2 linked regions of the Homo sapiens genome follow. The protein of the gene in region 1 interacts with the protein of each later gene in a pairwise test. Each region holds a gene or a part of one and is shown in the gene's direction. Other genes may lie near its edges.

Region 1 (7,022 bases):
TGAAAATTTCACAATAGGCTCAGTGTACTGAGCAAGTACCAAATTCATATCGATTTTACAAAAAAGATAAAGTTCTTTAAAAGTAGTACATCTCTGTAGAAGATTATCCTATTTTTTGGGTTTTTTTTTTTTTTTTTTTTTTTTTTTGAGACCGGGTCTTGCTCTGCCTCCCAGGCTCAAGCAATCCTCCCACATCAGCCTCTGGAGTAGCTGCGGCTACAGATGCACCCTACCATACCGAGCTAATTTTTGCATTTTTGTATTTCATATTTTTTCTCTACAAGAGATGGAGTTTTGCCATGTTGCCCAGGCTGGTCTCAAACTCCTGGCTCAGGTTATCCACCCGCCTCATCCTCCCAAAGTTCTGGGATTACAGGCCTAAGCCACCACACCCAGCCTTAGTCTTACTTTCAAGCTTATTCAGAGTTAGGACTGTCAGTGCTTATGTTCTTGATTTACTTGGCTTTGTTAAACGTGTCAAACTCTACTTCACCTTTTCTGCAGCAGTGAAAAGATTAATGAGCAGTGCCATCCAATAGAAATATAATGCAAACATATATGTAATTTTAAATTTTCTAGTAGCTACATTTAAAATGGCCAAAAGAAACAGGTGAAATTAATATATTTACTGAGTATATCTAAGATCATTTAAACATGTGTTTTCAAAATGAAAAATAATATTGAGGCCGGGCACGGTGGCTCACGCCTGTAATCCTCGCACTTTGGGAGGCCAAGGTGGGCGGATCACCTGAGGTCAGGAGTTCAAGACCAGCCTGGCCAACATGGTGAAACCCCATCTCTACTAAAATACAAAAATTAGCCGGGCATGATGGCTGATGCCTGTAATCCTGAGACGGGAGAATCGCTTGAACCCAGGAGACAGTGGTTGCAGTGAGCCAAGATTGCACCACTGCACTCCAGCCTGGGCAGCTGAGTGAGACGCCGTCTCAAAAAAAAAGAAAAATAATGAGATTACATTTTTCCCTCCATTAAGTCTTCAGAATTCAGTGTGTTTTTACCAGCATATCTTAGTTTGGGGTAGCCACATGTAGCTAGTGGCTATCATGCTGGATAACCTGTTACTGAGAGAGCAGCCCCGCTTTGGTTAGCCTGGCATCCATTCACAGGCATCCTTTCCCACCTCTTGAAATGGAAAAGGAGATCATCCTATCAAAGGCTACTCCATCACTGACTGGGTTCCCGCTCCTCTTCTGACTCTGGGCATTTTATTCAGATACTCCCTGTATTTTATCTTTGGCCTCTCCCACTGCATATGTCTTCCTCTCCTAGATCACTCCCATCTTCAAAGAAAACCTTCCTTGTTTTCTACATTTGCCTGCCTCTGGTCTCTATAATGAAACCTGCTTAAAGAGTTACCTATATTCTCTCCAACCTTCTGCAGACTGCATGCCTGTTATTTTCACTCCACCACAACTGCCAGGGCTCCCAGTGACTTCTTTGTCACTAAATCCAATCAGTAGATGGTTTTAAGTCTTTGCTACTTTATCTCCCAGTAGCATTTGTTAGTGTGGCCCCTTCCACATGTATCTTGGTTTATGTGACACCACTCTGGATAATTCTCCCAATCCACCTTCCACATGGCAACTGGAATACTCCTTCTAGAAAGCATAAATCTATTCTTTCCTCTGAATGATAACCCTTTAGTGGCTTCACTATTAGTAAAATTAACAGTTTTATAAGTTCTTACAGTATTGGCTATATCTGTGATTCAAATGCAGTGTAAATCTTGAATACCATAATTGTTCATTCATACCTATAGCGTACAGAACCACTTTATCTTGAGCACTAAAAAGACAGCATGGTGTAATAGGAAAAGCTTGGAAATGGAGAGCTGCCCTGCCCCTTATATGTATGACCATAGATGGGCCATTTGGTCTAGACCTTTATTTACAAAATGGGGATAAGTCCTACTTTCTAGTTAGTAATGCTGTCAAAAATTAAGTGATCTAACATTTGATAGTGATTTGAAAAATTGAACGTGTTGTATGATGGAGGATTTAGCAGTAAAACAATGAACAATGGTGTACACTCCTTCCAGAAAAAGTGTACCATTTAGTTATTCCAAAAAGGTCCATTTGAAATCTTCCAAATTCTAATTGTGAAGCAAGCATGTGAAAATGTAACTAAGATGGCATGTACACACACTACTTGAGAACACAGGCCAGTCTCACTTATAATTTGCTATATCAACAAATTAAAAGGAAGAAATGATATGATCAACTTCAGAGATGCTGAAAAGACAGGAATAGATAGAAATTTCGTTAACATTGTAAGTACATTTTGGCCTGGCGTGGTCACTCATACCTGTAATCCCAGCACTTTGGGAGGCAGAGGCAGGAGGATCACTTGAGACCAGCCTGGGCAACACAGGGAGACCCTGTCTCTACAAAAAATTTAAAAGTTAGCCAGGGATGCACCTGTAGTCCCAGCTACTGGGGGTGCTGAGGTGGGAGGATCACTTGAGCCCAGGAGGTCAGGGCTGCTGCAGGGAGCTGTGTTTGCACCATTGCACTCCAGTCTGGGTGACAGATCAAGACCCTCTCTCAAAAAAAATTAAAAAGTGTATTTATTTCAATCCAAAAGCCAGCATGATGCAAATAGGAAAACCTTGTTGAAGTCAAGAATAGTCTGAGGATATTCCATTATTTACCTTGTTCTAGAGGTAATCAGCAAATTTTTGTATATTGTCATGTGTTGCTTAACATTAGAGACGTGATCTGAATTATGATCAACTTCAGAGATGCTGAAAAGACAGGAATAGAAATTTCTTTAATTGCTATTGTATCAGACGATTTCTTCATTGTGAATAACATCAGTGTGTACTTAATACAAACCTAGATGGCATAACTTACTAAAAACCTAGGCTACATGGTATAGCTTATTTCTCTTAGGTTATAAATCTGTTCGGCATGTTACTGTACTGAATATTGTATGCAGTTGTAACACAATGGCAAGCATTTGTGTATCTAAACATAGAAAGGGTGCAGTAAAAATATGATATAAAAGATTAAAATAGTACACCTGTACAGGACATTTACCGTGAATGCAGCTTGCATGACTGGGGGTTGCTCTAAAAATTTTATTTCTTGGATAATAGATTAACCTTAATTTACTGTAACGTTTTTCTTTCTTTCTTTCTTTCTGTCTTTATTTTTTAGGAGATGTGGTTTTGCTATTCTGTGTTGGCCAGCCTGGTTTTGAACTGCTGGCCTCAAGCAGTCCTCCCACTTTGGCCTCCAAAGTGTTGGGATTATAGGTGTGAGCCATGGCATCTGGTCAACATTTTACTTTCTAAACTTAATTTTTTTTTTTTAACTTTTTGGCTCTTGTAAAAACACTTACCTTAAAACGCATTATACAAAACAGCAGTACAAAAATATTTTCTCTCTTTTTTTTTTTTTTTTGAGACAAGGTCTTGCCCTATCAGGCTGGAGTGAGTGGTGCATCACAGCCCACTGCACCCGTAGCCTCGACCTCCCTGGGCTCAGTGATCCTCCCACCTCAGCCTCTCGAGTAGCTAGGACTATAGGCATGCACCACCATGCCTGGCTAATTTTTGTACTTTTTTTAGAGAGGGGGTCTCACTATGTTGCCCAGGCTGGTCTTGAATTCCTGAGCTCAAGCGATCTGCCTGCCTTGGCCTCCCAAAGTGCTGGGATTACAAGCATGACCCATAGCACCTGGCCAGTATTTTCTTTTATATCCGTATTCTGTAAGGTTTTTTTCGTTTTTTTTTTTTTTTTTTTAATTATACTTTAAGTTTTAGGGTACATGTGCCATGCTGGTGCACTGCACCCACTAACTCCTCATCTAGCATTAGGTATATCTCCCGATGCTATCCCTCCCCCCTCCCCCCACCCCACAACAGTCCCCAGAGTGTGATATTCCCCTTCCTGTGTCCATGTGATCTCATTGTTCAATTCCCACCTATGAGTGAGAATATGCGGTGTTTGGTTTTTTGTTCTTGCAATAGTTTACTGAGAATGATGATTTCCAATTTCATCCATGTCCCTACAAAGGACATGAACTCATCATTTTTTATGGCTGCATAGTATTCCATGCTGTATATGTGCCACATTTTCTTAATCCAGTCTATCATTGTTGGACATTTGGGTTGGTTCCAAGTCTTTGCTATTGTGAATAATGCCGCAATAAACATACATGTGCATGTGTCTTTATAGCAGCATGATTTATAGTCCTTTGGGTATATACCCAGTAATGGGATGGTTGGGTCAAATGGTATTTCCAGTTCTAGATCCCTGAGGAATCGCCACACTGACTTCCACAATGGTTGAACTAGTTTACAGTCCCACCAACAGTGTAAAAGTGTTCCTATTTCTCCACATCCTCTCCAGCACCTGTTGTTTCCTGACTTTTTAATGATTGCCATTCTAACTGGTGTGAGATGGTATCTCATTGTGGTTTTGATTTGCATTTCTCTGATGGCCAGTGATGATGAGCATTTTTTCATGTGTTTTTTGGCTGCATAAATGTCTTCTTTTGAGAAGTGTCTGTTCATGTCCTTCGCCCACTTTTTGATGGGGTTGTTTGTTTTTTTCTTGTAAATTTGTCTGAGTTCATTGTAGATTCTGGATATTAGCCCTTTGTCAGATGAGTAGGTTGCGAAAATTTTCTCCCATTTTGTAGGTTGCCTGTTCACTCTGATGGTAGTTTCTTTTGCTGTGCAGAAGCTCTTTAGTTTAATTAGATCCATTTGTCAATTTTGTCTTTTGTTGCCATTGCTTTTGGATACAAAATCAATGTACAAAAATCACAAGCATTCTTATACACCAACAACAGACAGAGAGCCAAATCATGAGTGAACTCCCATTCACAATTGCTTCAAAGAGAATAAAATACCTAGGAATCCAACTTACAAGGGATGTGAAGGACCTCTTCAAGGAGAACTACAAACCACTGCTCAAGGAAATAAAAGAGGATACAAACAAATGGAAGAACATTCCATGCTCATGGGTAGGAAGAATCAATATCGTGAAAATGGCCATACTGCCCAAGGTAATTTACAGATTCAATGCCATCCCCATAAAGCTACCAATGACTTTCTTCACAGAATTGGAAAAAACTACTTTAAAGTTCATATGGAACCAAAAAAGAGCCCGCATCGCCAAAGCAATCCTAAGCCAAAAGAACAAAGCTGGAGGCATCACACTACCTGACTTCAAACTATACTACAAGGCTACAGTAACCAAAACAGCATGGTACTGGTACCAAAACAGAGATATAGATCAATGGAACAGAACAGAGCCCTCAGAAATAACGCTGCCTGTCTACAACTATCTGATCTTTGACAAACCTGAGAAAAACAAGCAATGGGGAAAGGAATCCCTATTTAATAAATGGTGCTGGGAAAACTGCCTAGCCATATGTAGAAAGCTGAAACTGGATCCCTTCCTTACACCTTATACAAAAATCAATTCAAGATGGATTAAAGACTTAAACGTTAGACCTAAAACCATAAAAACCCTAGAAGAAAACGTAGGTTTTTTTCGTTTTTAAAGTTTGTTTTAGTTTTTTAAACTTTTTTGTCAAAAACTAGGACACAGGGCCGGGCACGGTGGCTCACGCCTGTAATCCCAGCACTTTGGGAGGCCGAGGCGGGCGGATCACAAGGTCAGGAGATCGAGACCATCCTGGCTAACACAGTGAAACCCCATCTCTACTAAAAATACAAAAAATTAGCCAGGCGTGGTGGCAGGCGCCTGTAGTCCCGGTTACTCAGGAGGTTGAGGCAGGAGAATGGCGTGAACCCGGGTGGCAGAGCTTGCAGTGAGCCGAGATAGCGCCAATGCACTCCAGCCTGGGTGACAGAGCAAGACTCTGTCTCAAAAAAAAAAAAAAACACAAAAACTAGGACACAAACACGCACATTAGCCTAGGTCTACTCAGGGTCAGAGTTATCAAGGCATCACAAGGTGATAGGATTTTTTAAGCTCCATTATAATCCACAGGACCACCCTCATATATGTGTTCTCTCCTTGACCCTGTGGATGTGACTGTATATGTAAATTTAAAAGGTGAAATTTTGATAGTAATGCCATTTCAGAGAACTTTTGGGTTCTTAAGATACTAGTAAGTTCAGAATTTGTTTTCCTAAATTATTGTTGTAAATTGCATGTAAGTTTCCAGAGTTGCTAATGAAAATGCTCTTGATCCACAATGTGGCAGAACTGTGTGGTCAGCAATACAGTCGACACTGTATCCTGTCTTTATAAGGTTGTTCACACGAACAGTGTTTCTGATAATGTGTTATGGATAGTATTAAGAGAAATAAAACTATTTATAAAAATAAACATTGGCTGGGCGCCATGGCTCATGCCTGTAATCCCAGCACTTTGGGAGGCCGAGGCAGGCGGATCACCTGAGGTCAGGAGTTCGAGACCAGCCTGACCAACATGGAGAAACCCTGTCTCTATTAAAAATACAAAATTAGCCGGGCGTGATGGCACATGCCTGTAATCCCAGCTACTTGGGAGGCTGAAGCAGGAGAATTGCTTGAACCTGGGAGGCGGAGGTTGTGGTGAGCCAAGATCATGCCATTGCACTCCAGCCTGGGCAACAAGAGCGAAACTCCGTCTCAAAATATAAATAAATAAATTACCATTGCCCTTGAAAGAGTCACAATCTAGTGGAAGAGACAATAATTATTTTCCCTTCAAAAATATATTTGAATAAAGATAATGTGCTAATAATTGCAACTGAATAACATGAGGAATGATTACTACGTGATTGCCCAGGGTTACACAGGCAGAAGTGACCTCCCAATTTTTCAGCGTCCATGCCATAAAATGACAGTAGTACTGCCTCATGGAGCGGTTGTAAAGAACAAAGACGTTGATACATGAAAGCCACTAAGAATAATGCTTCAGCCTTTTTCCAGTGCAGCCCAAGGAGTGGGAGTGGGGACCGTCCGTTCCTTTCTTGCTCAGCGTTGCAGCAATGGGAGTGAAATTCCAGGGGCTCCAACTGCAGCAGGAAGGGCA
Region 2 (7,843 bases), on another chromosome or scaffold:
ACAGCCGTGTGGGGCCCCTTCAAAATATGTCAAAGAAATATATTCTGGGGTAAAATGCTTGATTTCTTCCAGGGCCTGCTCTCTATCATGTGATGCTATACTAGAGTCAGGTTGGAATGTAGTATCTTATTGCTACAGAGTCTGTTTTGTCAACCTTAAGATCTCTGCTTTGACGTTAATGCAGGTCAGCTGTGCCTGGATTTCAACGGAAGGCGGGTATAAGGAGCCTGTCCCACCCCCACTTCCCATCACGGTCTGAACTAGTCTCTAAGGTTTACTTTGGAAAGCTCGTGGCTAACGGGGTTGGCGGGGGACTAGAATTTTATTTTTGTTTTACAGTCTCAAAGGAATCGCGATAGGTGCAGGGGCCACTGCAGTGGGACTAGGCTCAACTCTGAGTGTAAGAAGAAAAACGGGAATGTACAGCCACGGAGAGGGTGAGAACGGACGGAAAACTATGAAGAGGCTACATCAGGCCAGGGGGGTTCTTGCTAGAACCACTTGGTAGGATTCGTGCCACAGGCAGGCCAGGTGATAAGATACCGAGGGTGAGGGATGAGGAGTATGATATCAGGGGCGGGGAACTGTCACTGCATTGACCCAGCAGGATTCTTTTGGACGAAAGGGGACAGGGGTCCAGGTCAGAGCCTTGAGGGCTTCGAGGACCCTGCCTGGAGTTAGGTCAGGTAGAGTCTTTGCCACATTGAGGCTGAGAAGCTGAGCAGCTGATCTGCGGGAGTCCAGAGACCCTCATGCTTCCTGCAGATGTGCTGTCAGCAGATCCTGAACTTGGGTTCCAGTGTTTTAAAGTGTTGTTTGCAAGCACCGCGGTCCTGCTCTCCCACTCACAGAACTACTATTGCTCACTGGTGAAGGACACTGGATTTAAAATCACAGACGTTCTTTTTCGCCTCTCGCTCATTATACATCCCTTTGAGGACACCGTCATTTTGCTGTTTAGGAGGAAGAAACAGGCAGAAGAGAACTCCTCCCATCCCTCCGCTAATGGCTTTTAAAACAGTCTTTTTTGTAATGGAACAACCAAACCTCACAATGAGCGTATATTGCTTGTGTGACCAGAAAGTAAGACAGTCCCCTGACACCTCAATTAAGTCATTTTGGTTGTCTACTCCAGACACCTCATGGCATCGTACTTCAAAATTCAGCTTTGTCATTTAGCAGTGTGTGGAGGTGCACACATTGCTAACCTCAGGCTCACTGAACACTGTTTTTTTTCTATGACGTGGATAATGGTGCCTGCGTCAGACACCTGTGATGTTTGAAAGAACCAGTTTATCAAAGTGCTTAGCCTGACGCCTGACACGCTGTGCACCCAAGATAAATGTTTGTTGTGTCATTCGATCTGTCGAGGAAGGAGGTGAGACACTTGTGGGTGGCAGGGCGGGAGGGGAGTACACAGGCTGTAAACAGCAGTGCCCAAGCTGAGACGGAGCAAGCTGGGAATCCGCCCGGGTTTCATTCAGTGTTCCACACCCCGCATGGATACTGGTTATACCTGTGATCAGTTATGCCTGTGATGGTTTTTTAGAAAACAAAACTATTTTATCACTCTGCTTTAAAGATGGCCGAGTGGAAAGACACAGTCCTGGAATGTTTAAATTCAAGCTGAAGAGCTTACTAGCCACGTGACTGAGCAAGTTATGGTTCCATCTTTCTAAGCCTCACTTCATTCTTTGTTAAGACAGGCCTCAGCATGCTGTTAGTAGGAATCTAAGGAACCCAGTGCTGATGGAGAAAGGGGTCCAGTCCAGACCCTAAGAGAGAGTTCTCGGATCTTGCGCAGGGAGGAACTCAAGGCAGTCGCAGAGTGCAGTGAGAGACAGCTGCTCTGATACAGAGTGGGGAGCCCGCGGAAAGCAGGAAGAAGAATGTGCCATCTTTGTTTCAAAGGCATCTTGTATCAATGTAAAAGCCAAGCTACGTGTAAGTGCAGGTGGGCTGGCAGTGTGACAAGATCTAGTACTTGGTGGATGTAAATAACGTTATCCTTGGCATTTCAGTGCGTAACTACATCTAAGCATGACTATAGCCATCTTTTTTTTTTTTTTTTTTTTTTTTTGAGATGGAGTCTTGCTCTGTTGCCCAGGCTGGAGTGCAGTGGCATGATCTCGGCTCACTGCAACCTCCGCCTCCCAGGTTCAGGCAATTCTCCTGCCTCAGCCTCCCACGTAGCTGGGATTACAGGCTACTGTAACTGCCAATCAGGTTCATGTTGCCTACACAGAGCTGATTTATCCAAACAGGTGAACTGCATAGAGAAAGAATAATCCACACAGAGCTGGCTGTGCGGGAGACCAGAGTTTTATTATTACTCAAATCAATTTCCCCAAGAATTCGGAGTTCAGAGTTTTTGCTGTTGTTTTTGAGATGGAGTCTTGCTCTGTTGCCCAGGCTGGAGTGCAGTGGTGCGATTTCAGCACACTGCAACCTCCGCCTTCAGGGTTCAAGCAATTCTCCTGCCTCAGGCTCCCAAGTAGTTGGCATTACAGGCGTGCACCACCACGCCTGGCTAATTTTTGTATTTTTAGTAGAGACGGGGTTTTGCCATGTTGGCCAGGCTGGTCTTGAACTTCTGACCTCAAGTGATCCGCCTGCCTCGGCCTCCCAGAGTCCTGGGATTACAGGTGTGAGCCACCGTGCCCAGCCCTGGAGTTCAGAGTTTTTAAGGATAATTTGGTAGGTAGGGGGCCAGTAAGCTGGGAGCACTGAGGGGTCAGATCAGAGATGAAATCGTATGGATCAAAGCTGTCCTCTTGGCCTGAGCCGGTTGCTGAGTGCGGGCCACAAGATCAGATGAGCCAGTTTATCCATCTGGATGGTCCCAGCTAATTCAGCAAGTGCAAGGTCTGCAAAATATCTCAAGCACTGTTGTTAGGTTTTTCAATAGTGATGTTATCCCCAGGAGCAATTTAGGGAGGGTCAGAATCTTGTAATCTCCAGCTGCATGAATTCTAAACCATAATTTCTAATCTTGTGGCTAATTTGTTAGTCCTACAAAGGCAGTCTAGTCTCCAGACAAGAAAAGGATTTGTTTCGGGAAACCATAAACTAAGTTTCTTCCAAAGTTAGTTTGGCCTACACCCAGGAATGAACAAGGACAGTTTGGAGGTTAAAAGTAGGATGGAGTTGGTTAGGTCAGATCTCTCACTGTCTCAGTTATAATTTTGCAATGGTGGTTTCACTGGTTTTAAGATGGAGTTTATTTTATTTTATTTTTATTTTTTTGAGACAGAGTTTCATTCTTGTTGCCCAGGCTAGAGTGCCATGGCGTGATCTCAGCTCACTGCAACCTCTGCCTCCTGGGTTCAAGCAATTCTGCTTCAGCCTCCTGAGTAGCTGAGATTACAGGTGCCCACCACCACACCCGGCTAATTTTTTTCTCCCAAACTGCTGGGATTACAGGCTTGAGCCACCGCGCCCGCCAAGATGGGTTGTTGATTTTAAAACGATGTCACCCTGGCTCTCCTAGGTTCCTGTTCCCCTAACATCATGAAGGCTGCTGGCAGTTCTCTGGCCTCCAGGGAGGCCTCCACACACATTTACCCATGTTCTTAGACAATCCTAGGGACTCAAGGCTTCAACAAACCTAAATGAGCCAGCAGAAAAATAAACTTGAACATGAATGTCAACGTTTTCCCACATGTACTAAAGGGTTATAATAATTTTGAAATGTTTATTTCAAAGAGCGTTGGTAATTTAAACGTCCTATTTAATCCCCAAAACAGTCCTGAGGGGGAGATAAGGCAGTTATCTTCATAGTACAGGAAAGGAAAAAAGCGAGGGTCCAAGGCCGACTATACCCTCAGCTCCATTAGCCCCCGAGGCCTCCCTGACAGGCGGGGCGGACAATCCCAGTGCAGATGCTCTGTATCGATCGCATGCTATCGGTTCTTTCAAGGAACGTGTATTGATCATCAATTAAGTGGTGAGTACTCCTCTAGATGTCGATTCTAAAGAGGGAACAAAACACATTAGACAGAAGAAACATAAGTAACTCGAATAACAACCTTAGAGAGAAGAAACATAAGTAACTCGAATAACAACCTTAGCAAACTGCGGAAACTCCTACAGACAAAAACTCAGGTGTGGGCGCAGAAGGGCCGGGGATGCGCTCGGTCAAGACTTGAAGGTCCGGGGCTTGGGCCCTGTGTCCTCACCGAGCCCCGGGGAGGCTCCGGCTCCGTCCACACCCGGAGCGCGACTCAGCCGCGGCCGGGGCTCTTCTGGAGAACGGCGCGGTCAGGCTCTGCCGCAGCTTTCAGGTCCCCTCGGCCCCGTCCGGGTGCAGCGCAACCAGGCTGCCCGCGGAGCCCCACCGCCCCCATGCCGCCGCCCGCCATGGTTCAGCCCGGCCCCGCCCCTCCCGCCGGCCGTGGTTCAGCGCGTCCACCCCGCCGCCCCACAGCGCCCGCCGCGCCGCGCCCCGCCCCCCGCCGCGCCCCGCCCCCCGCCGCGCCCCGCCCCCCGCCGCGCCCCGCCCCCCGCCGCGCCCCGCCCCCCGCCGCGCCCCGCCCCCCGCCGCGCCCCGCCCCCCGCCGCGCCCCGCCCCCCGCCGCGCCCCGCCCCCCGCCGCGCCCCGCCCCCCGCCGCGCCCCGCCCCCCGCCGCGCCCCGCCCCCCGCCGCGCCCCGCCCCCCGCGCCGCGCCCCGCCCCCCGCCGCGCCCCTCCCGCGCCCGCCGCCCCGCCCCTCCCGCGCCCGCCGCCGTCGTAGCGCCTAGGCGGGGCCTCTCGTAGCGACGCCCCCAGGGGGGCAGAACGCGTGCGCACGCGCGTGCGAACGCGCGTGCGCGGGCGGTGTTTGAGGCCGGCCAGTCGTGACTGGGCGGCAATGAGGTCAGTGACTGCCGGGAGTCCTGCAGGGGCGGGGCGGCGCCAAGCGCAGGGAGCCCGGCTGAGTGGCAGCCCAGGTGAGCGCTCAGGGAGCCCGGGTGAGGGCCGGGAACCCAGGTGAGGGGCAGCCCAGGTGAGCGCGCGGGGTGCCCGGGTTAGGGGCCGGGAACCCAGGTGAGGGGCAGCCCAGGTGAGCGCGCGTGGAGCCCAGGCGAGGGGGCTGGGAAGCCCGGGTGAGGGGACCGGGGATCCCAGGTGAGGGGCCGGGAACTCAGCTGAGGGGGAACCCAGATGGGCGCGCGGGAGCCCACGTGAGGGGGAGCCCGGGTGAGGGGCCGGGGTGGCTCCTGGCGTCCGCGGTCCCAGCCCTGCCTTCCGGTGGGCGTGCGGCACCCCGGGCCGTGCGGTTCCCGGACAGCAGCTTGTGGGGGACTTTCGAGCCCCGCAGCCCGGGGTCCTGCCTGCGCGGGTTGGGCGTGGGGGGCTCCTCACCGCGACGCTGACTTTGGAGTCCTTGAGCGGCGCGGATGCCGGACGGAGGGAGGGGACAGGCGGAGGCGGAGGCGGCGCCGTCGCCCCTGACCTCGCTTCCCTCAGACCGGCTGGGCAAGTACGGTCAGCTCACCTGTGTGCCCACGAGGCGGGGAGGCGGCTCCTGCAGAGCCACAGAGGTGCCGTCGGAGCTGCTGTCAAGGACAGCAGGTGTCACGTGGGTGTGGCCTCCACTGGTCACCGAGTTAGCTGGGGCGGAAGGGGACAAGGTGCAGCTCAACATGGTGTGGGAGGCGGAGGGACGCTGGGTCAGTCAGAACCTGTAGGAGCGGGGAGGGACGCTGGGTAAGGTCACCAAAGTGTGCGGGGGAGAGAGCGGGCGCTGGGTCAGGTCAGCAGGAGGTGGGACCCGCCTGGGCTCTGGGCCCTATAGCCAGCTGCTCTAGGTTGGGGTTGGGTGTGGACAGTAGGGAGGGGAGCCAGGGGCTCCCCAGCCTGTGTAGATTCTGCTGTAAGTGACTCTTCTCTGAAAGACTGGCGCGAGGCGGCTGCTTCTGACTCCTGTTTCAGTTTACCCTCTGTGTGAAATCTGTAACTATCCAGCTTCTGCTTACCTCACTCCCGTATTTTGATTTTTATTTACATACAACTTTTCAGGAAGGTTGTGAGAGGAAAGAGCAATGGTGCAGGAAGTGTGAGTGATTGAGGGAATATGAGATGGCCACAGCTCCCCACTGAGCTTGAACACTTCTGTGCCTCACTTTCAGATTGGCCGTCATGGAGGCTGTGGTTGTTAAGGAAGTTCTTCCTGAGCATCCAGTTTCCATACAAAGAGCACAGGTTCTCTAGGTGGCCTCAGAGATGTTCAATACACAATGTCTTCTGATAACGAGGAACTGGGCAAAAGCCTGGTAGGACACCGGGTAGGTAAATGGTGGAGTCCCTGCAACCGTGTTGCAGAGGAGGATTAGCTGTTGCTGAGAGAAGAGAAGCAGGCCGGGGAGCAGCTTGTATACTGTTATCCCCTTTTATGTAAAAAGAAGAGTTTATATCTAGAAAAACAATTGACCCAGCAGGCACCAAAAAATAGTGATGGTGCTTGGAGCTGTGTAAGAGGATTGTAAATTTTTATTTTTGTATTTTTATGCTTGTTTATATTTTCTGAATTTTGTGTATTAAACATGTATTTCTGTTGATTTTGGAAAACATTTTTACAACCCATCAATGTATAATTTTCAAAATGTTAGAAGTATAATTCTCATGTAAATAGCTCTTGTCAGGTTATATTTCAGTCATTAATGCAGTATACAGCAGGATAGGAATGTCAGTTCAAAAGAGAATACACAAAACTAGGATTTTCTTAGTGAGTGGGTAACAGGAATGCTGAGAGAAGATTGCCAGATTAGATAATAAGATTGGTGAATATCCTGTGTGCATTGAAACCACAGCCTTTGGGATTGTCTTTTCTTCTTGATGGAAAGGAGAATTAGCTTTGCAGATTGTAAAATGCGTGACCCACAATCAGTGGTAAATAGTTTAGTTATTTCTCCTAGAAAGTCAAGTGATTGTTGGGGTTGTAAAACACTGAACTTGCGTTAGCAGGGAAAAAAGCATGCAACCTTTTTTTTCCCTTTTGACGTCACTTCCAAGTTTGGATAAATTATCTCAATGAAAAACAAAAATGCTGGTATCCATAGCAGTTTAGCCCCCATAAACCGGAGGAGCGCATAGATGCATGACAGAGTCGAAGGGTTCCAGTGGCCACTGAGCCTGGTTCCTGGTCACACTGCAGCAACAGAGCTAACACTCTTACTGATGTGTTTGCATTCAGATTTTTAAAAAACTTCATGGCCCAGTGCAATAGAAGAGCTGAAACCACAGAATCTTATAAGACAAGCTTTTTGTATACATTTTCTCCAAAGAAAATGAAGATCTGCAGCGTCAAGAGATGGTGGCCTTCCAGGAGTTGTTTATTCTCCGGCTCCACTTCCTCTACTGCAGAGAGGAAAGGGGCTGGTGTGGAAGGGCTTGGAAGCCTTCCAGAATGAAAGAACCAGATGAGTCCATTAGGTTCGGCCTCCAGTTTTTTGTTTTTTTTTTTTTTTTTGAGACGGAGCCTCACTCTGTCACCCAGGCTGGAGTGCAGTGGCGCTATCTCAGCTCACTGCACGTTCCGCCTTCCAGGTTCCCGCCATTCTCCTGCCTCAGCCTCCCGAGTAGCTGGGACTACAGGCGCTCGCCATCACGCCTGGCTATTTTTTTTTTGTATTTTAGTAGAGACAAGGTTTCACCATGTTAGCCAGGATGGTCTCGATCTCCTGACCTCGTGATCCTCCCACCTTGGGCTCCCAAAGTGCTGGGATTACAGGTGTGAGCCACCCTGCCCGGCCGATTCGGCCTCCAGTTTTACCCATGGAAGGAACAGTGACTTCCAGCTGTGCATTACACTTAAGGACTCCTTCATGTGGCCTGAGCCTTATGGTGCACAGCAAGGGAACAG

What was found. The genes of interacting proteins can lie anywhere in the genome.
Region 2: the proteins of PDIA6 (region 1) and CLN8 interact in a two-hybrid assay, tested with the Homo sapiens proteins (one study listed by BioGRID).

The regions. Positions count from the first base shown.
Region 1 is NC_000002.12:10,802,771-10,809,792, reverse strand, and holds part of PDIA6 (protein disulfide-isomerase A6 isoform d precursor), read left to right. Parts: intron 1-7,022. UniProt on the Homo sapiens protein: May function as a chaperone that inhibits aggregation of misfolded proteins. Negatively regulates the unfolded protein response (UPR) through binding to UPR sensors such as ERN1, which in turn inactivates ERN1 signaling.
Region 2 is NC_000008.11:1,758,958-1,766,800, forward strand, and holds the start of CLN8 (protein CLN8), read left to right. Parts: upstream 1-4,831; 5' UTR 4,832-4,928; exon of another isoform or gene 4,929-5,041; intron 5,042-5,476; exon of another isoform or gene 5,477-5,627; intron 5,628-7,843. UniProt on the Homo sapiens protein: Could play a role in cell proliferation during neuronal differentiation and in protection against cell death.